Linked DNA regions of Homo sapiens. The protein of the gene in region 2 purifies or fractionates together with the protein of the main gene of each other region. This does not show direct contact. Each region holds a gene or a part of one and is shown on either strand. Other genes may lie near its edges.

What was found.
Region 1: the proteins of KDM4A (region 2) and DNAJA3 purify together in Homo sapiens (pull-down; one study listed by IntAct). This does not show direct contact.
Region 3: the proteins of KDM4A (region 2) and CAPZA1 fractionate together in Homo sapiens (co-fractionation; one large-scale study listed by BioGRID). This does not show direct contact.
Region 4: the proteins of KDM4A (region 2) and WRNIP1 purify together in Homo sapiens (pull-down; one study listed by IntAct). This does not show direct contact.

The regions. Positions count from the first base shown.
Region 1 is NC_000016.10:4,451,523-4,458,928, reverse strand, and holds the end of DNAJA3 (dnaJ homolog subfamily A member 3, mitochondrial), read right to left. Parts: intron 4,119-7,406; coding exon 4,015-4,118; 3' UTR 4,002-4,014; exon of another isoform or gene 4,001-4,001; intron 3,384-4,000; coding exon of another isoform or gene 3,361-3,383; 3' UTR 2,154-3,360; downstream 1-2,153. UniProt on the Homo sapiens protein: Modulates apoptotic signal transduction or effector structures within the mitochondrial matrix. Affect cytochrome C release from the mitochondria and caspase 3 activation, but not caspase 8 activation.
Region 2 is NC_000001.11:43,689,232-43,696,637, reverse strand, and holds part of KDM4A (lysine-specific demethylase 4A), read right to left. Parts: intron 5,794-7,406; coding exon 5,589-5,793; intron 5,143-5,588; coding exon 5,066-5,142; intron 4,383-5,065; coding exon 4,327-4,382; intron 2,645-4,326; coding exon 2,536-2,644; intron 1,930-2,535; coding exon 1,744-1,929; intron 1-1,743. UniProt on the Homo sapiens protein: Histone demethylase that specifically demethylates 'Lys-9' and 'Lys-36' residues of histone H3, thereby playing a central role in histone code. Does not demethylate histone H3 'Lys-4', H3 'Lys-27' nor H4 'Lys-20'.
Region 3 is NC_000001.11:112,658,740-112,666,145, forward strand, and holds part of CAPZA1 (F-actin-capping protein subunit alpha-1), read left to right. Parts: intron 1-282; coding exon 283-362; intron 363-961; coding exon 962-1,040; intron 1,041-2,466; coding exon of another isoform or gene 2,467-2,496; exon of another isoform or gene 2,497-2,513; intron 2,514-7,406. UniProt on the Homo sapiens protein: F-actin-capping proteins bind in a Ca(2+)-independent manner to the fast growing ends of actin filaments (barbed end) thereby blocking the exchange of subunits at these ends.
Region 4 is NC_000006.12:2,770,078-2,777,483, reverse strand, and holds part of WRNIP1 (ATPase WRNIP1), read right to left. Parts: coding exon of another isoform or gene 7,371-7,406; exon of another isoform or gene 7,365-7,370; coding exon 7,123-7,364; exon of another isoform or gene 7,108-7,122; intron 4,547-7,107; coding exon of another isoform or gene 4,486-4,546; exon of another isoform or gene 4,433-4,485; intron 1-4,432. UniProt on the Homo sapiens protein: Functions as a modulator of initiation or reinitiation events during DNA polymerase delta-mediated DNA synthesis. In the presence of ATP, stimulation of DNA polymerase delta-mediated DNA synthesis is decreased.

The DNA.
Region 1 (7,406 bases), on a different chromosome or scaffold from region 2:
GTTCAAGCGGATCTCCTGCCTCAGCCTGCCGAGTAGCTCGGATTACAGGCGCCCACCACCAAGTCTGGCTAATTTTTGTATTTTTAGTAGAGACAGGGTTTCACCATGTTGGCTAGGCTGGTCTTGAACTCGTGACCTCATGATCCGCCCACCTTGGCCTCCCAAAGTGCTGGGATTACAGGTGTGAGCCACCACGCCCGGCCCACCCTCCTAATGTTTAAGCAAGTGCCAAACATGTACCTCCCACAGGCTCACAGGCCTAGAAATACTTTATTTTCTTGAGACATGGTCTGGCTCTGTCACCTAGACTGGAGTGGAGTTGCATGATCACAGCTCACTGGAGCCTTGAACTCCTCAGCTCAAGCAATCCTGCCACCTCAAGATTTCTAAGTAGCTGGGACTACAGGTGCCAAGCCACCACTCCCAGCTAATTTTTTAGAATTTTTTTGTAGAGATGGGGGTCTCACTCTCTCGCTCCTGGGCTCACACATTCCTCCCTCCTTGGCCTCCTAAAGTGTTCAGATTACAGGCGTGAGCCACCATGCCTGGCCCTTTTCTTATATTTTTAAATACATACTACTACTCAGAAGCTATAAAGAAGTCTGGTAACAAATACATCAGGAGCACAAGTGGAAATAAACCAAACCCAGGCCCAGAAAGAGCACTGAATTCTACAGCTGTTGCACGGCCACCTTTTTTTTTTTGAGATGAAGTCTCGCACTGTCGCCCAGGCCGGAGTGCAATGGCATGATCTCCAATCACTGCAACCTCCACCTCCTGAGTTCAAGTGATTCTCCTGTCTCAGCCTCCTGAGAAGCTTGGATAACATGCATGTGCCACCACGCCTGGCTAATTTTTTTGTATTTTTATAGAGACGGGGTTTCACCATGTTGGCCAGGCTGGTCTTGAACTCCTAACCTCAGGTGATCCACCCGCCTCAGCCTCCCAAAGTGCTGGGATTATAGGTGTGAGCCACCTCGCCTGGTCATGCACAGCCACCTCTAATCCCTTGAGGGAAGGATGCTTCAACACAACAATGGTTTCTGTTTAGCAAGAAAATCCACCTTTCTCTTCCAAAGTCTTTCTCTAGACTTCTGCTTTGAAGCAATAGGACATGAATGAGACTCAGGGTGACTGTTCCAGGAATAAGCCCAAGCTTTCACAAGAGACACGGTCTAGCTCCCCACTGCTGTATCCCCAGGAACTAGAATAGGGCCTGGTCCATACTGAGTGTCCACAGTAGGCAGGCAATCAGTATTTCATTGATGAAAATACTGGGAAGTATCTGAGATGAGCAGAATGTCACTGCTGAGCCTCTCCTGTCCGTCAGCTCTTTCCCGAGTCTCTTCTCCACCTGACCCAGCAAACAGACTCTCATCTCACCCTGCTCAGCCCAGAGTGCCAGAGTGGACTGAGCTGTGTATCAGGGCCCCTCTAGCCACGCCAGGCATAGAGCGTGGCTGGGAACCCAGAGTAGCCAAACTATAATACATAAAAATTTTGGTCAGGCATGGTGGCTCACACCTGTAATCCCAGCACTTTGGGAGGCCGAGGTGGGCGGATCACCTGAGGTCAGAAGTTCAAGACCAGCCTGGCCAACATGGTGAAACCCCCCATCTCTACTAAAAATACAAAAATTAGCCAAGCGTGGTGGCATGCACCTGTAGTCCCAGCTACTCAGAAGCCTGAGACAGGAGAATCGCTTGAACCCAGGAGGCAGAGGTTGCAGTGAGCAGAGATGGTATCACTTCACTCCAGTATGGGCGACACAGCGAGACTCCATTTAAAAAAAAAATAAAATAAAATTGAATGTAAAAGATGCAAAGACTGGAAAGAATGAAGGGAAACAATCCAGTGAGGGAGACTGAAATGCAGGGACCCAGGGACATTGGCCAGCTCTCACAGCATGGGCTCCCAAGAAAAAAGTCACATCCAGATTCTAGAACATTCACTCACAGGGGACTGTTGTGTCATGGCAAGCACCCTGCTCTGGAATCCAAGTGAGGGTCAGCACTGTCGGCACCCCAGACCCATCTGCCTCTATGTGCTCTGGGTGGCTGTGAGCACAGGATGAGGCCAGCCAAGTCTCCTGTAACCCCCATAAGCCACCTGCAGAGGCTGTCTGAATTCTTTCAAAGAAGAAATGACCACAATTTAGGTTTGAAATATCTTTTTGCAATAGATAATCTTATTTACATTAATACAGAATCATTTTACATTCCTAAATCAGACACTAATAGATGCTTTATTTTAGTGAATTATAAAGGAAAACAAAAAGGAAACTGTTGAGAAGTGTTCTTCATTAACCTGTCTAACGACAGCCCGAAGATCCTGAAACACATGGAAACTGCGACATGCTACCAGCAGAGGCTGGGGAATGGGGGTTCTGCTCTCACTGAATGGTGGGGAACCTTCAACTGCTTAGCCTGTGCTTTCCTTTTCTGAATCAACATTTACAAAGGAAAAAACAATGATTAGCACTGAATAATTTAAACACACTTCAGAAAATAGATGTCAACAGTGTAAGTGGGAGAACCAAGCCCCTGACTAGCAACAGTGGCAGGGCTTCAGTTCCCAAGGCAGCTGAAGTCTGGCCAGCACAGTGCTGCAATGGGCTGTGGCTCAGCAGAAGGGCAGGAGCCCTCCATGCCTGGCTTACAACAACAGGACTCAATAGTCAGGGACAGGCGGCCATCCCGGATGGGGTGGGAGCAAGGACTGTACATCCTGACAAGGATCACCACCCACACGGTCAGAGCAGAACCCCCAGGGACTCTCTGGGCCTCTACGTGCCTCCCAGGCACCGACTGTGCAGCTGCTTGGTACCCCGGGAATAAAAACTAACTGAGCAGAGCAGCTGATGCCTCGGCAGGGCCCCTCATTAGGGGAGGACGGTGCTGGTGGGGCCTGGGGGCCCCACGCTCCCAGTGAAGACAACCTGTCAGGAAGAACTCATTCTGGAACCTCCCGGAGGTTTGCTGAGAAGGAAATTAATCACTTCGTAACTTGATGCAGCTTAAGGCTTCATTTCTAAGCTGTAAGCATGGCCTTTAACTAAGATATCCACAATATTCAATTCCAAATTAGAGTTTTAGCCCTGCAAGAGTCTAACCATCTCCCTCTGCCTGAGCCAGGGGCCGTCACCTACCAATGGACAGGAAACTGCCACCAGCCTCTGGGGCTGCATCCTACTGCCCGGGCTGTCCACTGTGACCTTTCCGTGGAGAGAGGTGTTGTCCCATGATTTTGCTGTTGCCAAGGCCGTCCAGAGGCTCTGCGGGTGGGAGCTCAGTGCTGCTGTTCTGGAATCCTCCCGTCTCCCAGGTGCCCTGGCCCTTGGAGGGGCTGCTGCTTCCCGGCCTAGTTTCCAGTGGATCTTTTTCCTGAGCCAAAGAGATAGGCTGTTACCTTATACTCAACATTTCAAGGGAACACACCCCTGTGGGGAGCGTCTGTTAATCCCTGGAAAGCAGCTGTGCCAAGAGAGGGGCGAGAACCCCACTTGCTGAGATGAGCATAATAAACCAAAGTGGGTCCCAAGATGACACGGCGAGCAAGCGCTACCCCTGGAGCAGCCCCCAGGCTTGCACAGCCCTGCGCTGTCCACGCAGGAGGGCAGCTTCCAAGCAGGCAGGACGTGAGGAGATCTGAGTTCTAGGCCTGGCTCTGCCTGACTCGCCCTCTGTGACCATGGGCAAGCCGGACCCACCACTGCAGGGGGGCTGTACAACAGCCCCAGCATCGCCACCTCCCCAGGAAGAAGACACAGCCAGAGGCTGGCCGCGGCAGCCCAGCCAGTCCTGCACTACAGGCTGATTGCCACGTCATCTATTCCCTAGGCTGAGAGGCCAGCTCCTAGTGGAGCTAGGTTTACCACACCTTGGACTGGCACCTGTTCCAACTCCTGGGGGTGGGGGCACAATATTGGTTAAAGTGGGAGAAAACCAGGATTAGTTCACAGAGGAAAACAAAGGGAAAAAAAACCTCCAGGGTTTTCCTACCTCGGCTGGGATATCATGAGGTAAACATTTTCTTAAGTTTGGAAAGGAATCCCTCCTCGTCCTCCCCAGCCTCACGCCTAGCCTTGCTTCCTGCGGAGCTATCCATGGTGCTGCCACCTGGGCACAAACAGCAGAAAGAACTGGCGTCATGGGCCTGCACTTCCACAGTCACATCCCAGGGCCCACCTACCCCCGCCTGGCCACCCAGGGGCCCACGTTCAAGAAGCGGCCAAGTGCCACCTCAAGAAGAGTGGGGGCCACTCCTAAGATGGCACAGGATGCCTCACCTTGCAGACGACTGAGGTGAACAGGCCACTCAGAGCCTGAGGGTCTCCCAACTGCTCTTTCAATCAAGGACCCACAGCAGGGAAACAAGAAATAGAGACGGACTATGACAGCTGTCTCTATCTGAGCAACAGTGACAAAAACACAGTCAAGTGCCAGGCACCTCCCAGGCCAGGCCATACACTTCCTTACAGGCAAATTTCACAGATGAAAAAACAAAAAAAGGAGGCACAGAGAGGTTACAGGGTTTACCCAAGGCCACAGAGCCAACAAGCGGGAGGGAGGACTGAGTGCGAGCCCATGCAGTCTGACTCCAAAGCTGAGACTCAACCACCATGCTGTTGGCTATAAGAAGGTAAATAATGACTGCCAAGAAAAACCCTACTCTAGACCAACTGGCCAGATTCCATGCTGCTGTGTGCGCAAAGACCCTGCAGAACAGCCCATGTGGGAGTCACGGCCACGCACAATCCTTTGTCACAGGCACTCCATCTCATCCCTCACATCAGCAGTCTATCTCCCTGAGCAAGTTGTCCCCATTTGGGGCACCTAACCTAAATGCTCTCAACCTAGGGAAGCTGTGCTGCAATTTCTTTAGGGCCCAGGCTGACACCATCTAGAGGTACTTTCTCACACAAACGTGTTACAGATTTGCCAACTACTAGACAAGGAGTGCACACTTTTGTTGTGAGTTAGAATATAGACCTGAACTTGGCATGTTAATTGTAGAGCTCATTTTTAATGTGCTCAGAGACCTAGGCCACGCACAGTGCATAAAAGAGTAAAGGCCTCAGTCTAAGTAAGAAGGTGCCTTCGCTAGTGAAAGGTCCAAAGTTTGGGGCCACAGGTCCCCGGGAAGGGGTGAGGGAGGCTACATAAAACAGAGTGAGACCCAGTCTCAAAAAAGAAAAGGCCGGGCACAGTGGCTCACGCCTGTAATCCCCGCACTTTGGGAGGCCAAGGCAGGCGGATTGCCTGAGCTCAGGAGTTCGAGACCGGCCTCGAACATGGTGAAACCCATCTCTACTAAAATACAAAAAATTAGCCAGGGGCGGCATGCACCTGTAGTCCCAGCTACTCGGGAGGCTGAGGCAGAATTGGTTGAACCCAAGAGGCAGAGTGCGTTGCAGTGAGCCGAGATCACGCCACTGCACTCCGGCCCGGGTGACAGAGTGAGACTCCGTCTCCAAAAAAAGAAAAAAAAAAAAAGAACAACAAGGAGCCATACTGTGTCTCTCACTCAAAAAGTCACATAGTAATTGCAAGCCCCCCCAGTTCCCTCTCTGTTCGCCAGAAGATGGACCTGTTTATCCCTGCAAGTGCTGAGTCTCTAAGCACACCATGGTCTTTCTGGGAGACCGGGGTCAGCTCTTAAGGTTTTCAGCAGCTACATTAAGATACTAAACGCATCAAAAACTATGCTGGTCAGGCACAGTGGCTCATGTCTGTAATTCCAACACTCTGGGAGGCCAAGGTGGGAGGATCACTTGAGTCCAGGAGTTTGAGGCTGCCGTGAGCTATGACTGCACCACTGCACTCCAGGCTGGGCCACAGAGCAAGACTCTGCCTCAAATAAATAAATAAATCCCACTGTTGCTTAAGTTCTTAGGACATGAGAATTATATGTCCTGTAATACTGTCATATGTGGATGCAAAACTAACTGTCTTCACAGTATAATGAGAGACTTAACCACCCACAGGCAGCAGACTGACATGTGACGGTGTATGCTTAGGGACAGAGTCTTGCCCTGGCACCCAGGCTGGAGTACAGTGTCGCTGTCATGACTCACCGCAGCCTTGAGTACTAAGGCTCAAGTGATCTTCTCATCTCAGCTTCCCAAGTAGCTGGTGATAGAGGTGCATACTACTTTGCACCTGGCTAGTTTTGAAATTTTTTGTAGAGACAGAGTCTCGCTATATTGCCCAGGCTGGTCTCGAACTCCTGGGTTCAAGTGATCTTCCTGCATTAGCCGCCCAAAGTGCTGGGATTATAGGTGTGAGCCGCTGCATCCGGCCTCACCAAGATCTTTAAAAGGAAGAGCTGACAGTGTCTTGCACACAGGAGAAGACATCCTGGCTGAGTGAGGGAACAGCTGAGTGAGGCTGAGTGATCAGGACAAGTAACCATGGAAGTGACAAAGGATCTCAGTGGGTGGCGGAATCAACTTTCAACTTACAGTATCAGAGAGAGGGTCAAAACATCAACTGGTGACCAGTAATACCCAACCTCCAACAGAGTAAGCAACACCCACGAACCCACCCAGGGCCCGGCCGTAGCACACCTCAAGCTACCCTGATGGGCGGGAGGAGGGAAGGACAGCTGTCTATGGAACCAATCTCGCATGTTATGTGATTGTAGGGTTTGAGGAAGGAGAAGCCACAGGTGCACTGATTAGAGTTCCGGGGAATAGCTACTCTATTACCACTTCTATTTTAGTTCAAGAGATACAACAAGAACAAAAGATAGTATACATATACACAGTATATGTACCAAACCATTAAAATAAGTGACATTTGGAACCTGGTTGGGCTACAGAGTTTTGTGGCAGCTGCTTTTTTGTTGTTGTTTTTTTGAGACAGAGTCTCGCTATGTCACCCAGGCTGTAGTGCAGTGGTGCAATCTTGGCTCACTGCACCCTCTGCCTCCTGGATTCAAGCAATTATCCTGCCTCAGCCTCCAGAGTAGCTGGGATTATGGATGCCCACCACCATGCCCCGCTAGTTTTTGTATTTTTTTTTTTTTTTTAGTAGAGACAGGGTTTCACCATGTTGGTCAGGCTGGTCTCAAACTCCTGACCTCGTGATCCACCCTCCTCGGCGTCCCAAAGTGCTAGGATTACAGGCGTGAGCCACCGCGCCAGGCCCTTTTTTTTTTTTTTTTTTTTTTTTTCAGAGAGTCTCACTGTCACCCAAGCTGGAGTGCAGTGGTGTGGTCTTGGCTCACTGCATCCTCTGCCTCCTGGGTTCAAGCGATTCTCCTGCCTCAGCGTCCTGAGTAGCTGAGATTACAGGCATGCACCACCATACCCAGCTAATTTTTGTATTTTTAGTAGGGATGGGGTTTCGCCATGCTGTCCAGGCTGGTCTCAAACTCCTGACTTCAAGTGATCCACCTGCCCC
Region 2 (7,406 bases):
AATGAGAAGGGCATGGTGAGGGCACCAGGGATGGCTAGGGCAGGGCCCTTGAGACACTCCGGAGTCTCATTCTCACATACAATATGTTCCCATCTTCCTAAGGTCCTTCCTATCATACCCCTGACCACCTGTCACGTTCAACATCTTTATGAAAAAGAATGCAGTCAGCCAACCAGGACTTTTCTGCAACCCCAAATGGCAGAGTGAAAAGTTCATCCTTCTGGGCTGGCCATCTATCACGTTCTTCCTTTGATTATGTATTTACCACACTGTTGTCAAACTTGTATGATCGCCTCTTCTATTAGATTGTAACTCACTCATGGCAGAGCCTTCCCCAACTACGGTCTGGCTTCTGACCTGACTACTCCACAGGGACACTCCAGTTTGTGGTACTTAGTGACCACCACACCAGCCCTGCCTTCTCTGTTGGATATGACCCTCCTTCCTCCCACTGGCTTGCTTCACTTTCTCAACTGCTTTCACTGGTTCATGCTCTGCTACCTGCTTCTCCCACTGGGAATCTCCAGAGCCCAGTTTCTAATGGGAACTAGATTTAACTATGCTGTTAAATGCTAATAGCCAAATCTTTACCCTCACAGTTACTCTCCAGAATGCTCCAGTGACCTCAGCATTTACTTTCCTCTTTCTCATCCCTCCTTCTCTCCCTTGCAGAGCAACACTGCTTCATCTCAGTTCCTGATTGCAGTTACTAACATCATATTAGCATCCTTCCCATCTCTCAAGGGAGTAACCTGAGTCATCTTCAATATTCACTCCCCCTTTCCTCCTCCTCTCCCCTTCTCTCCTCAACCCACGAGGGTCAATAAACCCTATCAGTTCTACCTGTTGGAGGATCTCAAAGTTAAATGTACCCCAAAGCCCTGCCTATGTGTTCCCATTTCAGACCTCACTCTCTCCTGGACTAACTGGTTTTCCAGCCTCAAATTCTTACTCTGAATCCTCTCTTCAAACAACCACCTGAGTGATTATCAAAAACTATAATGCAGAATCAAAATATTCAACAAGTTCTCATCCAGTGAAGACAGGTCAGAGTCCTGAGAGTGGCAGTGCAGGGCCTTCATCCTCTGCCGTTGTCCGCCTCTCAAGCATCACACTCCCACACACCGTCACACTCCCATAACCAGTCTTTCATGATCCTTCTTCTGCGACCTGTTCATTCTGTTTCTCAAGCTCTGCACACAACAGTCTCTGCATACAATTCCTTCTTATTGTTTAAGACCCACTTCAAATGCCACCGTCTACCCAATCCTCTTCAGAGCTCCTCTAGCTAACATTACATGTCACTTTTTCTCTAAGCTTTACCATTAAGAGAACTGCAGAAATCTCTACTGTCTGGCAATTCATGGTTAACTCTTGGGAGCTCTCCCCATTTGTTCTCAACATTTTCAGAGGTTCTGCATGTCCCGGACACTAGGTTAAGTAATAAGGATGACCACATTAATAAGATATGGACCCTCAAGGAGTTTATTCTGATGGAGAGGCAGACAAGTAAAGAGATAATCAAAACGAATCAACTACAAGCAGTTTGGTGTCACTGGCTTATGGAGTACAAGGCAGGGAGTGGAGATGGACAGGGGCCACCTCTCAATCTCTTAACTCATTAGCACTCTTCATAATGCAGAATGCTTGAGGAAATAGTTGCTGATACAACAAATGGAAAACATGCAGAGAAAATGACCATGAAAACTGTCAAGAGGATTCTAGAATGACACCCTCTCTCACCTCCAAATTAGGAATCTTGTGCCGAAAGCAGGTAATGAAGACCACAAAAGGCCAGTCGTCAGGCTGCATCATCACACCGGCAGCCTGGGCGCAGCTCACATGGAAGGCAGTTGGGCAGCGGCCGTGAGAACACTGCACACAGCAGCCAGCAGTTCTTTTCCTCCGCTTCTTACAGAAGATACATTTCTGTAGCACAGGGGAAGAAAACCAGTGATTGCAGGAACTGGCACTGCAGCTTCCTCTGTTGTTCCCCTCCCAAATGCAAAGCCAAGCAAGCAAGAGCCAGCCCCTTCCCAAAATACAAGGACACACCAGCCTGCTCTAATCCAGGTCTGGTTACAACTTTATCTGCCAAGGAAATTTTTTTTTTTTTTTTTTTGAGACGGAGTCTTGCTCTGTCACCCAGGCTGGAGTGCAGTGACACAATATCGGCTCACTGCAACCTCCGCCTCCCGGGTTCAAGTGATTCTCCTGCCTCAGATTCCCGAGGAGCTGGGATTATAGGTGCGCACCACCACTCCCAGCTAATTTTATATTTTTAGTAGAGTCGGGGTTTCACCATGTTGCCCAGGCTGGTCTTGAACTCCTGACCTCAAGTGGTTCACCCACCTCGGCCCCACAAAGGGCTGGGATTACAGGTGTGAGCCACCACACCTGGCCTCCACTAAGGAATCTAACCACAGAGTGAGAATCACAAACTCTAACCAAAACCAAGGGGTACAGGAGGTCCCTGTTCTCTTCTACCCAGAAACTTGTAAGTCGGGAAATTATGTAGAGTCTACAAGCCCTTACCAGTTTGAAGCGGGGCAGGGGGATTTTGCTCACATCCACCGGACTTCTTTCTGCAATGTTGACAAACCTTGCTTCCAGAATTGCCACAGCACATGAAACGTGGACCCACCTGCCAAAAGGCAAAGGCTCCCTCAGTCACCTCTGGGCCCAAGGCTCTGTGGCCTTCTCTTTTGGGCCTGCTGACAGCGCTTCCTCCCTCACCTGGGTGACCACTGACTTCCACCAGCACATGCCTGGGACCCAGGAAGGTGAGAACCAGAACCGTCTCTCCTCTGAGTATGTGGAAGCAGTGCCACCCCCACTGCCCACCTAGGCCACTGCCCACTGCCCTAGGTTAGCACCGGATCATGCTTCTTACACCACTCTGTTGAAAAATGAACAGAGCTGCAGGCTAATGGTGTGTGGCAGGTCTCAGGGAGTGAGAATAAACTGGAAAGCTCTATGCAGACCTCTTTACCATAGGACCCAAGTGCTTCCTGAAAACGTCCCCGGCTGTGCCCTAATCTGCCAGTAATCACAGCTCTCTCTCGGCCTCTGCCCAAACCTCTCCCCCAGGCTGAAATGACCTCTCCCTTCTGCTCCCTTTTTCCATAGCTGACTCACTCTTTAATCTTTAAGGTCTGACCCAAGCCCCACTTACTCTGAGAGGTCTATTCAACGGACATCCTTAAGAATTAAAGTAAGTTTTGGACATTTTGGGAAACCAGCATGCATCAAGAGGAGAAGAACGAAAATGGTGACAACTCTTAAAACCATGCTACGTGAAAACCTACACCAGACAACACTGGGGCTCCATGGAAGCTCTCTGCAGTTCTAGTGGGGCTGTCTTTTTAGAGTGGGAACAGATTTGTTCTGTGTGGCCCTGGAGGGCAGAACAGGCATTCAGAGGTAAAGGTGAGAGATTCAAGCACAGCCATTTCCACTCCAAATAAGAAAGAATGTTCCCAGCACTATCCTGTGACTGTGAGGAACCCAGTGACCTCAAATAATGGCAGCAAGTGCCTTTGAAGGAGCAGAAGCAGCAGGCAGAGTAGCTATCTCTCAGGGACAGCATAACTGGGACTCTTGAGGGCAGGCGGCTGGACTGAACATATGCTGCAAGTTGCCACGGGATTCTACTTGGAAGCAGGATACTCAGCACTGACCTGCACGCACCATGCCCTAGACAGCTAGCTCTTCCAGGTCAGAAACCTCATTCATCTTACGTTTCCACCTCAGAGCAACCAAACACAAGCCTAAGCACAAAGATTCACTCCATGAAAACGAGCTGCCCAACAGCTGAGAAGCCCAGAAAATTCAGCAGATTCGGTTCCATAGTGGGTGGGCCTGTCTGAGCTCTCCTCAGTGTCCTCCTTGAGCACACTCGCCTCATTCCAAACAGCAGGTCTGAGCCAGGGAGTTTGCCATGTGGAGAAGTGCTTGCTAGCCTGTGGCCGCCTCTGCATACCAGCCCCAGCTGTGACAAGGTGAATGTCCTCACTCCAGCCCACACAGTCCCTGCGCATCATCTTCGTCTTCATATTCTCATGAGTCCATTCTTAGCTTCTCCAAAGGAGGATGTCACTGACATCTCTGCTGCAGAGGAGCAGCTGGAGTTGGAAAGTCTGGGACTGCTTGGCTCCCTTAGCATTCCATTTTTAAAATGAGTCTTGGAGATGCTATTCCTGCTCCACACGATGTGCTTCCCAAATCCTCATCAGTCATTCAGAAGAACAGCTAGTACCCTCACAAAGACACTGTGTGCTTCGGAACTGAGCCTGTGCATTCCAAGGCACTGCTCAGGAAACTTACCTGTCATCATTTGCTCTCTGCAGGGCCCCTCCTCGTAATGAGCATAAACAGCAGTCCTGCCAAGAAAGGAGAGGGAGGAAAAAGTGGTTAATACCAAGTCATTAACATTCAATCTGCTCTCCCCTGGACCTGCTTTGGGCAACTCCTCCACATAAGAAAGAAGCATAATAGCATGTGGGGCTTCACCCAGGCAGCCCCTGCACCAGGACGCCCTGTCAGAAGGAGAGGCCACTCAGGGCTAAAGTGTGCCAAGTAGTCACGTGACTTCACATAATCCTCTTCATTGTTGCTGCTAATAACAACTCTTAGCAAAGTCACAAAAGATACTTTGCTCAAACTAGAGGCATGACAGGGCTCTGACTGCTTCTTATATGGGCTAGGTACAGCCAGGTTCCAGGGGGTACAGTGAAGAGAAAACAGCACAATGAATCATCTGAGCCCCTTTCTGAGGCTCCAATTCAAAATGGCTAAATTCTTTTAAGGGAGTTATTGTTCCTCCACAGGAAGACCACTAGTTGGTCTTTCCACAATGGAGCAAACACAGCATCCAGACTCCGTAAGTGGGCAGCAACCATTCTCACGGTCATAGGATTTACTCTCACAATACTCGCTCTCTGACATCACCGCGTACCAGACCCTATGCAGACTGCTGGGAATACTGAGTCCAACATGAAATCGTCTGGCCCTGAATATGCACCAAGACTCATGGTGAAGACAGTAACAGTGTGGGATCACTCACCTCCTCTAGGGCATTGGCTGAACACCGAGAACACATCCAGTCTTCAGAAGCCTTTGCAGGGGGGACCCCATAGCAACCTAACAGGGACACCAAGATGAGCAAATTAAACCCAGTGGTCAGAGTCAAAAGGTAGATTTGCAATTCCTTTCCATATACCACCTCCCAAAGCTACAACCAAATCTCACAGAAACCCCTTAGTTTTCTTTAGTCTGAGTCCCCAGGGCTCAGGCATACAGTATGGCTCAAAGTCTCAAAAAGTCAAAAACTGTAGATTCACTGGTACAAACACCTAGTAAGTGGCAGGGACTAATCCCTTTCTGCTATCTGCAACCAAGAGGATGGCAAAGAGATGACTAGTGCCAGTATGGACCCCTGGAGACAGTGAAAAATCAGCTAGCAACAGACTCCCCAATAAAACATCAACAATCTTTTTGGGGCTGGGAGGCCAGGAGGTGGCAAGAACTTCCAGTGAGCAGGCCCATACTCCTGGGACAGGACACAGAGAAAGGTGAGCAGCACTCACTGGCATGGACCCGGACGCTGCACTTCTTGCAGGAAACGAGTATGCTGGTGCCATCCTCCTCAAGATAAGGAGTAGAAAGGTTGATGTCCGTGCTGCAGCCAGTCGAAGTGAAGCACATTTCTGGAATCAATGGCTTGGTCCTCTGCTTCTGGGGGGCTAAATCTGAAGCATTTCCACAGTTCTGATTAAAGCCTCCAAATTCAACCTAAGGGGAAAGAACAAGTGTACACCTCAGTGAGCACGTGCCTATGCTCTTAGCTTTCCACCTGCTCTATCAGCAGAAAGCTGGCTCTCTTACCGATCTGACTATGGCTACAGCTCCCGGGTGCACAGCCATTATCCCGGAGCTGCTAATTGAAGTTACCTGTAATGACTCAAATTCAGTTTCTCACAGCAGCATCATACAAAGGCCCCTAGGGGACAACTGAGAAAAGGGAGCAAGGTAAGAGGCAACTGGGATTTCAATCTTCCCAAAGAAAGTGGTTAATAAAATGCACTGAGAGGCCAGGTGAGGTGGCTCACGCCTGTAATTCCAGCACTTCGGGAGGCCGAGGCGGGTGGATCACCAGAGGTCAGGAGTCCAAGACCAGCCTAGCCAACATGGTGAAACCCCGTCTGTACTAAGAATCCAAAAATTAGCTGGGTGTGATGGTGTGTGCCTGTAGTCCCAGCTGCACTCCAGCCTGGGCAACAGACTGAGACTCCGTCTAAAAAAAAAAAAAATGCACGGAGATGTTAGCAGCTAGGCTGCTACTGTGGGCTCCCTTACGTGCTACACTGTGCGGTGACCCCACCTCAGGAGTGTACCCAGAGCAGATGCTCCTAGTAGGCCAGCACTAATTGCCTCTTGTGCCTGTCAGCAGGTCACCTGAACTGCAGCACTGTCACATGGCTGGAGCCCCACCTGTGTGATTCCTGGCTCAGGGTCCCTCCAGGAAGAACTTAAATCCACATACTTCCCTTGGCAAACTATACTGATTGCAAATATCTGCTGGATGGCACCTGCATCTCCATTCCAAGGATGAGGCCCAGAAAGATGTCAACCCCAGAGCCTATGCCATTTGTGAAACTCCTACTTAGTAGATCTGCTTATAGTAAGAACCCAGCCATTCACTCCCCTCATAGGCAAAGGCTTTGGTTTTGCTTTTTGTCAATGGAAAGGTTTAGTGAGTTCCTAATCCAAAGTGTGTTGGTCTGAGGTTCCATTTTCAGCAAGCATGAATCTGGGGCCCTGCCAGGCTCAGCGGCAGCCATGCCACTTTAACCACCACAGCAGGTAAGGACCACTTACCTACCTGCTATGCTGTGCAGGTCCCAGCTGAGACTGAGCTGGTCCCTTGGCACCTGCTGCTGTGAATGCCTTCCTGGCATCCTAGAGCTGGACCCAAAGAGATCCACCAATGAAGCCACAGATGCCCCAGAGCAGGAGGCACACAGCTGAGCTCAGCAATCTTGCTTCCCAGCCCCTCCTCACATATCAGGCCCTTGCTTCCACCCCTCCCAAGTTCCTTCTGCTACTGGCAACACGCATTGTGGCAATGGGAAAGGAAAAACAACATTAGAGGATCTGGCTTTTCAGCTGAGGTTCAGACTGTGGTAAGGAAATCACAGTTCTCCACCCTGGCCAGGACTATAAACCACTTGGCAGGAATAACCACGGACTAGAATAACAGAAATGCAGATTGCTCTGCAAACTGATGTCTGTGATGACTGCATGTGCAAAGGGGAGCCTAAGCCCACCCTCAGCTCATCTCCAAAGCATTCTCAATTGAAACCCACGTTGCTGGGTTATCTGCCTGGAGAAGACTGACCAATACA
Region 3 (7,406 bases), about 69 Mb from region 2:
ATCAGAATCTCATCTGTCTTGTATGACCCAGCCTAAATGGCACCCGCCTTGTACCCCAAACCAAGAGCAGTATTTCCCTCTGTTTTCATTGTATCACTGTCTCTGGTAGAACCTAACATGTTCTGCTTTGTTTTCATATCCCATGTGCACTATTGTGTTCTAAGCTCATTTTATGTGATTCTTTGTCTCCCCCAAGGATTTAACACTCTGCTTTTGTACAATGCATGTTGTTTAAATTAAAAGTGTTTGGAGTCTTTAACTATTTTTTTTTCCCAACAATAGGTTTATGCTAAAACTATCGATGGGCAACAGACTATTATTGCATGTATTGAAAGCCACCAGTTTCAGCCTAAAAACTTCTGGTAAGAAGTAGATATTCTCTTCTATTTACATCTGAAAGAAACCAGCAGTTGAGACTTGGTTTTTAATCCAACTAGCTTGGAATAATTATTTAACTTACAGACTTCAGTTTTCCATCTATAAATGAGGGATTTAGATTCCTTACAGTTCTAAGGTTTTATAATTATATTTTCCTTTAAAAGTTACTCTTATTTTGAGTGAGAACAAGTGATTAGTAAAGTGCCCTGTTGAAAATCTGAGTTTTACTTGGCTTAGGGTTACTGCTACTTGAGTTAATTGTGTAACTCAGCAGCCTATTCATCTGATTTTGGAAGAGCCTCCCATGAGCAGAATAGGCATGGTTTTCCATTTCAAGGGAAAAAAGGAAAAATGAAAGACAAAATAACTTAGAAAAGGCTTATGGTCAGGCCACTTAGATCCAGACTTACATTTGAGTAGACAGAGCTTTGGGTTTGCCAAACTGGAAATGACAGTTTCTCTCTCTCTCTTTTTTTTTTTCTTTTTTTGCACCCCTCTTTCCCAACTTCTGTACCTCAGTGGCAAATCACCTCTTTCTTGTGCTTATTGCTAATTCTGCAATGTTGTGTGTGTGTTTTAATAGGAATGGTCGTTGGAGATCAGAGTGGAAGTTCACCATCACACCACCTACAGCCCAGGTGGTTGGCGTGCTTAAGATTCAGGTGAGATTCCAACATGTTTATAGACTTAAAACTTCACATCTTTAAAACATGTGCAGGTTGCTTTGGTATTAAATAAGGACCAAGTATGTGTAGATGCAAAGGGAGACTGATGGCAGTGAATAGAAATAGAAGCCTCCTTCTTGGGGTGGTAAACAGAGAGAGCTATTCTGAGTTGATAAAGGATAGCATGTAGAGTGTATGGCAACATGGTTATTGTTATTTTTCCTTCAATGGTAACATAAGATATAACTAGGAATTATCAAACAGCAGTTTTAGGAAAGATTTAAAATTAATAATAATAATAATTATTATTTTTTGGGACAGAGTTTCACTCCATCACCCAGACTGGAGTGCAGTGACGTGATCTCAGCTAACTGCAACCTCCACCTCCCAGCCCAGGCTGGGTTAATTCCTAAAAATTATAACTAGAGAGAATGGCAGGTGTTTTGGAATATAAATAGCCAAGCAGAAGTAGATTGATTGATTGATTGATTGATTGACTGATTGATTGATTTTTGAGATGGAGTTTTGCTCTTATTGCCCAGGCTGGAGGTGCAATGGCATGATCTCGGCTCTTCGCAATCTCTGGCTCCTGGGTTCAGGTGATTCTCCTGCCTCGGCCTCCCGAGTAGCTGGGATTACAGGCATGCGCCATCACGCCTAGCTAATTTTCTATTTTTAGTACAGGCGGGGTTTCTCCATGTTGGTTAGGCTGGTCTCGATCTCCTGACCTCAGGTGATCCACCCGCCTCGGCCTCCCAAAATGCTGGGATTACAGGCGTGAGCCACTGCACCTGGCCCAGAAGTAGATTTTTAATGCTGATGTCAGGGTAGACAGGCAGCTGAATAAGATAGCTGTTAACTCATTTGATGCCTGTCTGGATTGAAGTTTAATATCCTAGCAGAGGTTTGACTTTCTAAACTCAGGGTGATTTAATATTTAAGCCTCACTAACTGTAAGGTCAGAATAGGTACAGGTAACCGAGAAGATCAGTACCTAATCGTACCTGTATTATATTATGTGAAGCTGTGCTTTAACAACAATTACCAAGAGTTGTCTTTTTTTTTTTTTTTTTTTTTTTTTGAGAAGGAGGAGAAGGAGGAGTCTCGCTCTGTCGCCCAGCCTGGAGTGCAGTGGTGCAATCTTGGCTCACTGCAACCTCTGCCTCCTGAGTTCAAGCAATTCTCTTGCCTCAGCCTCCCAAGTAGCTGGGATTACAGGCACACACCACCACGCCCAGCTAATTTTTGTATTTTTAGTAGAGGTGGGATTTCACTATGTTGGCCAGGCTGGTCTTGAACTCCTGACCTCAGGTGAGCCACTGTGCCCAGCCAAGAGTTGTCTTTTTTAATGCTCTAATTTAATCAAGTGCATAGGTAATAAATTCTGTAAAAGTAAATCTGCTCTTTTTATATATACCTATAGCTTCCTGCAACAAGTAGCTCCTGGCCATAGGAGCATGCCCAACTCAGGTGAGACAGGCTGGTGTTGAGTTCACAGCTCTAGGAGGAGCCCTCAGTGATATGTAAGAGTTGGTAGATAAATATGGCAGCTTCCTCAAGTAGGACAACTTTCAAGCACATTCTGTTTAGTCTTCCGGAGCCCAATACCCACAGCTGTAACCTGCTCATAAACGTACCTCTAAGGCTTCCTTCCCTTCTGTGTCCCACTTCTTCTGTCCCCTACTGTAGCTTTGTGAGATTCGCTCCTGAATAAACTACTTTTTCTCTAATCTTTGTCTTGGGGTCTCCTTCTGGGAAGGTGCAACCTAAGACAGCATACTGTTCTGTTTCTGTTAACAAAATATCTTAGTAGCCTAGCGCTCTAGATCTCTTGTAACTGTGGCATTAGCATTAACTTCCTAGAACCATGGTATCAGCATTGTAGAAGCTTATTGTAAATTTTGTGTAAATAAATTTTACTTTGTTTCTAGATGGAAACAGCCATTTGTATTTTAGCTCTGCCAGTGCAAACCTATAAAATAAGAGCACACATCACAAAGGGTGATAATTTATGGTAAGATTCAAAATACAGCCCAGTGTACAGACCCACATTTAAACCTTTTTAAGCACAGATTGAGCACACTTTTGGGGAAAGCTTATTTCATTTACATATCTTTTAAATTTTGGAGTGAGAATTATTTGGAAAAGTCGTTAAGATATTTAGCCTTTCAGGCTAGTCTATAGGCAAAAACATCGTTCTGAGAAGGCAACAATTTCTGAGGATTTATGTTGATGACAATCATGTTGAAATTTGTGTTAGTTAATTGAACCATTTTCATATTAGCAGATGAGACCTAGAAAAGGTCTTAGAACACATAAGTTTTGAGCTTAATTTCTTTCTTGAAACGGTGTATCTCAACTCTGTCACCTAGGCTGGAGTGCAGTGGTGCTTTCATAGCTCACTGCAACCTCAAACTCCTCAACTAAATGATCCTCCCACCTCATCCTCCCAAGCACCTAGTGCTACAAGCACATACCACTGTACCTGGCCAACTTTTTTTATTTTTTTGTAGAGTCGGGGTCTCACTATATTGCCCAGGCTGGGTTAATTTCTAAAAATTATAATAACATTAGTGTATTAGGTAATGAAATTAATATTTTTTAGAATTTTTCTTTTTTTTTTTTTTTTTTTTTGAGACAGAGTCTCGCTCTGTTGCCCAGGATGGAGTGCAGTGGCAGGATCTCGGCTCACTGCAAGCTCCACCTCCCGGGTTCATGCCATTCTCCTGCCTCAGCCTCCTGAGTAGCTGGTACCACAGGCGCCCGCCACCATACCTGGCTAATTTTTTGTATTTTTAGTAGAGACAGGGTTTCACTGTGTTAGCCAGGCTGGTCTCGAACTCCTGACCTTGTGATCCGCCTCCCTCAGCTTCCCAAAATGCTGGGATTACAGGCGTGAGCCACTGCGCCTGGCCCTAGAATTTTTCATTGAGATCAAAAACAGTGAGGCTTATTGACCTTACCCTATATTCCTTTCCATGTCCTAATTAAAAAACATAACAGAAGTTCAAACTAATTGTATAGTCTTTATTCTCGAACAAAAAGAATGTGCTCTGCATACCTCCTCTCTTTAGACAAGTTCTGAGAAATACAGAAGTTCTTGTTTCTTCTATGGCCAGATCTGTTGTTGTTTTTTTAAATATCTCCCATCCTGTTTGTAATAATTCCCCCCTGCCCCCTTTTTGTTTTGTTTTGTTTTTTGAGATGGAGTCTTGCTCTGTCGCCAGGCTGGAGTGCAGTGACACGACCTTGGCTCATTGCAACGTCCGCCTCCTGGGTTCAAGCGATTCTCCTGCCTCAGTCTCCCAAGTAGCTGGGCGTACAGGCGCATGCCACCACGCCCAGCTAATTTTTTGTATTTTTAGCAGACACCGGGTTTCACTGTGTTAGCCAGGATGATCTTGATCTCCTGACCTCGTGATGCGCCTACCTTGGCCTCCCAAAGTGCTGGGATTACAGGCGTGAGCCACTGCACCCGGCTCATTCCCCTTTTGAATGTTCTTTTCAGTCCCTGAACCTCTAGTTTTTTTAATGAAAAAACAAACAAAACTGATATTTGATTGTGACCTACTTGTATTTTAAATATTCTTATCTATTGGGATTTTAACCTTTATATGTCATCATCATTTAGCCCAGTCTTTTTTGCCCACATCTTTGCTGTTCTGATTTTACATGTAAGTATTAGTGGTTCTTATTATCACCCTTCTTTTCCATTGGATTCTCATCTTGTCTCCAGTGGATTCCAGTCTCTCTCTGTCACCCAGGCTGGAGTGCAGTGGTGCAATCTCAGTTCACTGCAGCCTCTGCCTCCTGGCTTCAAGTGATTCTCCTGTCTCAGCCTCCCAAGTAGCTGGGATTACAGGCACCTGCCACCATGCCTGCCTAATTTTTTTTGTATTTTTAGTAGAGACAGGGTTTCACCATGTTGGTCAGGCTGGTCTCGAACTCCTGACCTCAAGTGATCTGCCCACCTCGGCCTCCCAAAGTGCTGGGATTAAATGTGTGAGCCACCATGCCTGTTCTCAGTAGATTCTTATATTGTCTTTTCTTCTTTAACCTCTTAGAAAGCCAAAAGGTAAAATTTCAGGGTTTAGAGAGGGTATGGAAAGTCTAGCTTCTCATGCCCATCTGGATAGAGCCAGCTGTTTGTCCTCATTCAAGAAGATACTTGCCGGGCACGGTGGCTCACGCCTGTAATCCCAGCACTTTGGGAAGCCAAAGCAGGGGGATCATGAGGTCAAGAGATCGAGACCAGCCTGGGCAACACAGTGAAACCCCATCTCTGTTAAAAATACAAAAATTAGCTGGCCATGGTGGCACGCACCTGTAGTCCCAGCTACGTGGGAGGCTGAGGCAGGAGAATTGCTTGAACCCAGGAGGCAGAGGTTGCAGTGAGCCGACATCAGCCACTGTGCTCCAGCTTGGGCGACAGAGCGTGACACTGTCTCAAAAAAAAAAAAAAAAAAAGATACTTATTTTTGTCCTTTAAACAAGGATAGGTAGGGGGTTCTTGTTATCCAGGAAAGTCTTTTTGTTGCAAATAGCTTTCTGCCTAGATGAAGCTTGACTGTTAGTTATGCCCTTCTAATGATATCCACAAAGAGTAAGCCCCTGCTGAGACACTATTTCTCCCCAGATCAAGGAATTTCTAACTTTTTGACAAAACATAGCATTGGGAGGTATTACATATGTTGGATAGCTCTGGAATTTGACCTAATTCAAATCCTAGCTCCTCCTCTTACTAGGTGTGTGAACATGGATAAGTTATTGTTTAATAACTGCCTCAAGGCAAACTTCAGTTTCCTCAGCTGTAAAATAGGGTTAGTCGTAGTCCTCATCTCATAAGAGTTTTTGTAAAGATTAAATGTGGTGGCCTAGCGCAGTGGCTCATGACTGTAATCCCAGTACTTTTGGGAGACCGAGGTGGGTGGATCACAAGGTCAGGAGTTCGAGACCAGCCTGGCCAACATGGTGAAACCTCGTCTCTACTAAAAATACAAAAGTTAGCCGGGCGTGGTTGCGGGTGCCTGTAATCCCAGCTACTTGGGAGTCTGAGGCAGGAGAATCACTTAAAGCGGGGAATCGGAGGTTGCAGTGAGCCGAGATCGTGCCATTGCACTCCAGCCTGGGCGACAAGAACAAGACTCTGTCTCAAAAAAAAGGATTAAATGAGGGAATATAAGTAATAGTGAAGTGTTTGCACAGTGTCTAACACATAGTAAAGGCTTAATAAATAATAGCTCCTACAGCTAAGATTACTGAGTAAGTGAGATGAAGTAAGTGAAGATTACTGTTCTTCTCTTTTCCTTTTCTGCTTTATCCCTCAAAACATTCTGTTTTGTTCACATATCTCCTGGTAGCATAGACTAGATGTCTTTGTTTGGGGTTTTTTTGTGTTTTTTTTTTTTTTTTGAGACAGAGTCTTACTCTGTCACCCAGGCTGGAATGCAGTGGCATGATCTTGGCTCACTGCAACCTCCGCCTCCTGGGTTCAAGCAATTCTCCTGCCTCAGCCTCCCAAGTAGCTGGGATTACAGATGCCTGCCACTACACCTGGCTAATTTTTTTTGTATTTTTAGTAGAGATGGGGTTTCGCCGTGTTGGCCAGGCTGGTTTCGAACTCCTGACCTCAAGTGATCCGCCCGCCTTGGCCTCCCAAAGTGCTAGGATTACAGGCATAAACCACCGCGCCCGGCCTTGTTTCAGCTATTATAACACAATACCTTAGACTGGTATACCTTAGCAGAAATACCTTAGCAGAAATTTATTCCTCATACTTCTGGAGACTAAGAAGTCCAAGATCAAGGTGCTGTTAGATTCAGTGACTGGTGAGTTCTGTTTCTCATAGGTGACACCTTCTGCATTCTCACGTGACAGAAGGGGTGAACACTGTCCTCATGAGGTAGAAGAGTGGCAAGAGAGCTTGATTGAGCCTCTTTTAGAACGGCACTAATCCCTTGAAGGCTTCATCCTCATGACCTAATCACCTCCCAAAGGCCCCTCCTCTTAATATTATCCCATTGCATATTGGTCCAACATAAGAATTTTGGGAAGGTACCAACATTAAAATCATAGCACTAGATAAATGGCATTACCTGGACTATTGTTCTGGCATTATGTCTCCAATAGCAGCTCCTTCGTTTTATTTTCTTCATAGCACAAGTATAATCTTTCTAAAACATTCCTTTTCCCGTGTGTCACCTATAATAGGATAACATCTGCATTCTTTTTTTTCCCTAAGATGGGGATCTTGCTATATTGCCCAGGCTGGTCTTAAACTTCTGGCCTCAAGTGATCCTCCCGTCTTAGCCTCCTGAGTAGTCTGAATTCTTAACATGGTTTATAAGGTGCTTTGTTCTTCAC
Region 4 (7,406 bases), on a different chromosome or scaffold from region 2:
GGAAAGCTGCCTAGCAACAAAAAGCCTTCAGGACAATTGAGGGAAGAAAAAGGAGTCAAAGCAGGAGCCCCATTGGATCCTAACGGACTGAACTAGCCTATATCCTGCACCATGGGTTGGATTGTGTGTTGATTACATTACATTCATCATCCCTACTATGCGGAGCACCTCAAGGAGAGGAATATTTTATTCTTTGTATTCCCAGACCTGGTAGATGATAGGCATCCAATATTTGCAAAATGAATGGACTAACTTCAGTTTTATCATAATCTCAGAGTGAAACCTTTACTTCTTATAAATTATATGGAAAGTATAGAGAAAACAAAAAGAATCCATATTTCCAGCACTGAGAGATAAAAATGTACTTGATATTTCCAGCAGAATGAAAGCTACTGTGCCAAGTGCTGACTTTACGATCCACTCACCCATGCAACCATCAACCTTACAGCTAACCTAAAACAAAAACTGGGACCATATTTTACATAGTTTTACATCCTTAACCATTAAATAATTGTTTGAAAAACAAGCTACTCAGACCTGTCAACATTTACTTTAAAAAAATTTACATTAAATTTTAAAAATAGACAAAGGGAGAAAATTCACCTTCTGCTAGACTACCTTGACGTTAGTATTTTGGTATGTATCCCTTCTCCATGAATTTGTCTTTTGTATGTATTTAGGGGCATGGCATGCTCTTTGGACAGTGACGAGATGGGCAGCCTTATATACCATGGTATTTACTAGTATAAACTGCCTCATTTCCATTAGTCCTCATATACAGACAGGGAGGCAGGCCTTATTAATTAGGACAGAAGCCAGCTAGCCGTCTACTCCATTGATTTATCAACAGTATGCTGTGAATAAGTCTTTAGCAATGATTATGTATTTTATGTGGTTGGAAAATAAGGTCTTCCTTTGGCTTTTAAACTCCTGACCAAAGTACAAGTGGTTCCACACTTCTGGTTTGGAGTCATGGGGAATGGAGGTGCTGCCACAACGAAAGCTACCTGAGCTCGCGCCACTCCCTTCTTCTTCCTCCCCTTGGGTATAATCCACATTTTAAATTTCACCCCGTCCAAAAGAAGAAAGTATTTCGAGGCCCAGATCAATCTGTCGGCAACTCTGTCCAAGTAATACAGGACCTGCTGACAGCACTCACAATGATCACACAAGAAAATTACAAAATGGAGATTCACTGTGAAGACGACTGAGCAGGGAAAGGTTCCACTTAAACACCCAATATATCTTGAACTCCCATTTACTAAGTTCTGAAGAACGAAGTAAGATATACTAAAATACCCTGAGATCTTAGAATGGGAAGCCCATGAGAGAACTCATGCCAAGAATGATGAAGGGATAGTTGTATTGATATTGGCAAAATCCCTCAGCAAACTGCGGCACAAACTATTTTGAAAGAGTGTTCCCAGTCTAGAGAATTTACAATTATTTTTAAATTTAAGCATATATTAAAATTAAGCATATATTTATAAAGTGTTTTGCACTTAAAAATAACCTTCCAAAGGTAGAATACAATAAAAAGAGGTAAAATCTATTCTGGGGATAGACTGCCCAAAATGTCATAACATCCTACATGGAAATAAACAATAGGAAGTAAATTATGTTGTTATAATAAAACACTATTTATAATAAGGGAAAATTGGTTAAAATAAATGCATTGGAAAAGATTCTATTTCTAGTTAACAAAACCTAGAGATAGAAACAGACTTAAGAGAGCTTGGCTTCTCCAACTGATGAGAAGGGCTTTAATTTTAACAGAAGAATATAGGAAGCTCTCTTCTTTCCTCTTCCAGGTGCCTAAATCCTGAAGCTTTCTACACATTGGGTAATACTGGAATTTGGAGGATACTACTTAGACAGCTGGATATGTAAGTTGGAGAAGGAGTGCAGTAAGTAAAAATGTACCTGTTATTTCAAGGCAGAATGAAAGAATATGCATGGCTTGGTTAAACTCTCCCTCTCTAAATTACAAACCAAACCCCACAAATCTCTTCCACTAAGGAAAAGGAACATTTCATGGTCAGGGTGATAACTGCTGTGTAGAAGTTTCAACCAGGGATATGCATCAAGTTAGACACAAATACAGCCACATGTACCTTACCTACCATAGACTGAGCTCAAATCTCCAGGGGCAGACCCTGGGCAAGGCATGTTTCTAAAATGTATCCCAGGGAAGTGTGATGTGCAGATCTGGTTAAAAGGCTCTCCTGCTGCTCTTACACAAAGAAGTGCCAAGAGAGAAAAGTCAGAACAGAAAAACCGAGCAGTGGGTCCATCCTCTGTAAACTTGGCACCTCCACCCCTTGTAGCACTTGAAGTCACTGAGAAGACAGAGACATGCCTTAAACACTGGCTCCATCACATTGAAGCTGGTTGGTCTTGGGCATGTTACTTAACCTTTTTGTGCCTCAGTTTCCTCATCTAGTAAATAGGAGGTAATGAGATCTACTTTGCAGAGCTGTATTGAGGACTGAATGAGATTAAGACATGTGGAATGCTTAGAGCAGTGCCTGCCATGTCATGAGACTCGACAAATACTGCTTTGGTATCAACAGCGAGGAGAATCACCCTCATCAGACTGTGCAACAGCATACTCTCCAGAACTGCACATATCCAAGGCAGAGCCCCAGATGCTGCCGCTTCCATAACATCAGAGTGAAAGCAAAGCAAAACAAAACTGACTTTCTCCACAAAGAGAGAAGGTACATTTCAGATGACGACGTCTTTCTGTTTAATCCCATGGAGGCACATGTCTTTCCAAATTACATTATACTTGGTAGGGGTCTGTAGTGGGTTGAATAGTGACCCCAAAAGATGTAAGTCCTAATCCCTGGAACCTGTGACTGTGACTTTATTTGGAAATAGGGTCTTTGTAGATGTAACTAAGGGTCTCAAGATGAAATCATCCTGGATTTAGAGTGTACCTTAAATCCAATGACAAATGTCCTTACAAAACACAGAAAAAGAGAAGACGTAAGGACACAGAGAAGAAGGCCACCATGTGAAGATGGATGTAGAGACTGGAGTGACATAGTCATAAGCCAAGGAATGCCAAGGGCCATCAGATGCTGGATGAGAGCATCGCCTTGTTGATACCTTGATTCTGGTCTTCTGGCTTTCAGAACTGTGAGGATAAAGCTCTGTGTTCTGAGCCACCCAGTTTGTGGCAATTGTTACAGCAGCCACAGGAAGTGCATCCAAGGACCATGAGATCTGTGGTTCTGGCTGCTGGTGCTTTTATGGCATTATTTTAATGCACCCTTGTATTAAAACAGCTATGTTAATGTACTGTATTAATGTACTTAAAAAATTTTTAAATAAAAAGATTGACATCTACTCTATACCAACCATTTATTCTGGCCAATCCCTTGTATTCTGGAGTTCCACTACCTTTCTTTCTATTCAATGGCACAAAAGGTTATTTAAGACACTTTAAACTTTTATAAAAAGAAGAATCCATAGCCACCTTGTTTGGGGGCCAGCTTGTCAGGGGCTCTCCTCTCCAGATGATTAGAGAAAAGCCCCACACCCAGTTACGCCACAGCCCTTACCCAGGGACAGACGCCACTTTCTGTCTTCCAACCACCTCTCGGAACTCAGCCTAGCTAGGCAGAGGGCAGTTATGGCTTCTCATTTCACTCTCTTGATCTCCAAAGACTTGTATACTCTATCTGGTTCACAAATAATTGATTCTTTAGGAGTGTTTTTGACTATGTATATATTCTATGACCTAGGAATCTATATTCCTTCAAAGCAGCAAGTAGTGCAGGATGACGAAATGCTAGCTTACTTTTTCATTTTCAGCAGCACAAGCTCATTCTTCGTATCATGAATCATGGACATTTTTTTCCTGGCCTCCAAAATTAACCCAGAGCAGACAGAATCTTCACTGTTTGTATCATGTGATCCAAATATTTTTGGGAGAGCAAAATACCTGAACACTACTGCTTAGCCATACAAACCAAAGCAACTATGGCGTAGACAATGAGCTTTCTATTTCACTCAGTTAAATTCTGCTTATCCTTCAAAACTCAACTCCGCATCCCCTCATCTAGGAGGTGAAATACTGGATTTCACATATTCTGAATGCTGCTTCTCTACGCCCACTGCACTTGGCGTATAAGCGTGGCACTGGAAGTGGACCTGCTCCCCTAGCCTTCATCATACTGCGCTCCCTCTGAAGGCACAGGAACAAGCTTTTCAACCCTCAGCCAATGCCTAGCATATGCAGGAGCTTCAATTTTGACTGAATAATAACTACAGGAGGGAATTTTTTTTTAAAAAAAGAACACTTATTTCACTTTAATGGGAATTTATCACTTACATGAGTATACTGTGTGACAACTCACAATTCCTCAAGTGCAATCAAGAACGGCTAAGCGGCAGCTTGATTAGTTTCCAAATCCAGTGCCCTGCTCACCTCCTCTCACGTGCAGTTCAACAGCCTGGGACTTCTCTGTAAATGTTCTAGTTGCTATCTAGGGCACCAAAACATGACACAAGAATACAAATGCACACCAATAGCTTCCTGGAGAGAGAAAGTAAGTATATGGGGTTGGAAGTCTTTTCTTTCAACTAGATTAGTGTCACCAAATCTGATTTATATGCACAAGGATGTATATAGAGCTGTCAACAGGGATTGGAAAGCAAAATTTTACCTAAAACAACTAAAAGACATCCCAATCCACTCTTAATTATCCCTGACAGTTGGGGTGGCAGGTACTTGTATTCGGAAATCACTTGTAAGAGTTCTTTCTGTGGCCTATGATATCTCCTAACTTAACTTCTTGTTAGAATTGCTAACAAGTTGACCAATTAATGGTTTTAAGCTTAACATTCTTTCATTTTACTCTGCTTGCTGCTGATGAAAAGGGCAATAGTATTAAAGAAAAAGGCTCTTGATACCTGGGTAATTATCCCTTATGCTGGATAATGCAAAACATATTAAACTACTTTTCTCATATCGAAAGCTAGGATTTATTCATTTCCAAACCATTCACAAAGCACATAATGTGTGCCAGGCACTGTGCTGGGGATATGAACAGGGACAAGCTCCTGTCCTCACAGTCTTCCCAGGAAAGCGGGGGACACAAGATAGCAAATATAATTGGGATCAAGTCTAAGCAAGCGGTAGTGGAAATAGTAAATCATTTACTGGATATGGGAAGTTTTCTCTGAAAAGCAATTTTAGCAGATAAACAATCTCTAGCTCATTGTTATATCAGTTTCAATAACTAAATCTTAATTATTTCACTTGATCTTCTCAAACTTTAATGTGCCTGCAAATCACCTGAGGATTTTTAATAATAAAATATAGAAATTCTTCTCACAAGGATGAGCTCCTTGGCTGCCGCCTTTCTCATTTCCTTTAAATTCCTGCACGGCAGTGACTGGGGAGAGGTGAAAAAACCTGAGGGTATCTGAGTAACAACTGATTATTATTGACTTCATGTCATCAATATTAATTATTGATTTCATGTTCTATTTCATGAACTGATGACATGAAATCAATAAAAATCACCCCAGACAAGTACACATGCAGAATATTAAGTTGCAGATACATTACGATAACCAGTACACAGAGCAAAGAACACACAGAAACATGAAACATGTTAGGATTTCCCCCCTTTTCTTTCAATTTGTCTTTACCATGTGGTTCTATGCGTCTGTAATGAGAATTCTGTTACGGGAAACCTACACATGAGTATCCCACATCTGAAGTGCCTGGGACCAGAAGTGGTCTGAATTTCCTATTTTTTTGATTTTAGAATATTTGCATTATATACTTACCAGATGAGCACCCAAAATCCAGAAATCTGAAGTGCTCCAATAAGCATTTCCTTTCACAGCATCATGAAGGTGCTCAAAAAGCTTTAGATTTGGGAGCATTTTGGATTTCAGATTTGGGATACTCAACCTGTACTACATATGAGGAGCTGGCAGCCCCCTTAGGCTCTGACAAATGCCCACCACATAAAGCACTTCTGAGTATGAGTCCATGTGGCTGATACCACAGGTTCCACACACTGCTTGTGGCCACAGATGTAATGGCTATCCCCATCACAACGGTATTCCAAAACAAGGCCACTCTGTCCTACCCAGTGGTCCACGGGCCAAATGTTTCAATGCTTTCATTAGACACAGCAGAATTCTCCCTCCATCTCAGACAGGAGCAAATGGGGCCAGACACATAGGGAGAGCCTGGTGAAACCTAAACCCTGAGCCTAAACTATGCCTTGTACTTTAATCCTCACAGAAAAGTGGCTCCAGAACTTGGCCTCAGGGCAGGCACGAGCAGCTGCAGAGTCCACAGCAGGAGGAGGTGGGCAATAGCCTCTCATCACACCAGATTATGTTCCATGGCAGTATTTCAGCCAACGTATGAACAAATACCATCTGAAGAATATGTTCTAATATTAAAAAAAAGGAAAACCCCTGACCCAAGAAATCAAATTATCTATGATATACACTTGGTGCATTAACGAGCTCATGTGGTACTCATGATGCAGAAATAGGTCACTAAAAGGATAGGGACAGCCTATAATGTCATATTCAGTTAACATTCCTTTACTTTCATGAAACTGAGTTTCAACTACACAAAAAGGATTACATAATTTTAAGGTTACAAGTTAATTTTTACTTGATTTTTTTTTTTTAACAAAATGCTAAACTGCAGGTTAAAAAGAAATTGAAACATGAGTACAATGCTCAAAAGAGTTGTATGGTAAGTCTAGAAAGTATTTATCTATCTATTTGTTCTATTCAATGAGGGACATAAAGCCTTTCAAATCATCAATAAGGCTTCCCATAGAAGCCTAAGCACAAAAGCAAACACCCAAGAACCAAAACAACAAAGCAAAGTTAAAGCTTGAAGAATTATAGAAACACATATTAGAGGCTGGAAAATGCATCTTCAAGTGTGCAGGGATAACTTTGTTAGGTATAATCGAACATTTCCCTCCTCTTTTATTTTCATTACGGGCGGATCAACATTTCTTCTCTGTCCCCACCCTCTCCTCACTGACGCCCGGCCCTTTCTGGCCCCCTGCCAGGAGACTCTCTGGGAGGTGTGTGCCCCCAGGACGCTGCACACTGTCAACTTACTCTGAGCTGCTGTTGCTGCTGTGGCTCAGAGGGTCAGTGGGACGGCTAGAGTCTAGGACGTGGATTCCCAGGGAGTTGATCGCTCGCATTAAAATAGTCACCATTGCCTCTACTGGAAGCTTCTCAAGAACAATCACTCGACAGCGGCTCAGAAGAGCAGCGTTGACCTGGAAGGAAGGGTTTTCAGTGGTTGCCCCAATCAGAGTGATCGTCCCACATTCCACGTGAGGAAGGAAAGTGTCCTAATCATGGGAGGAAAACAGAAAAAAGTGATTCCAGTCAAC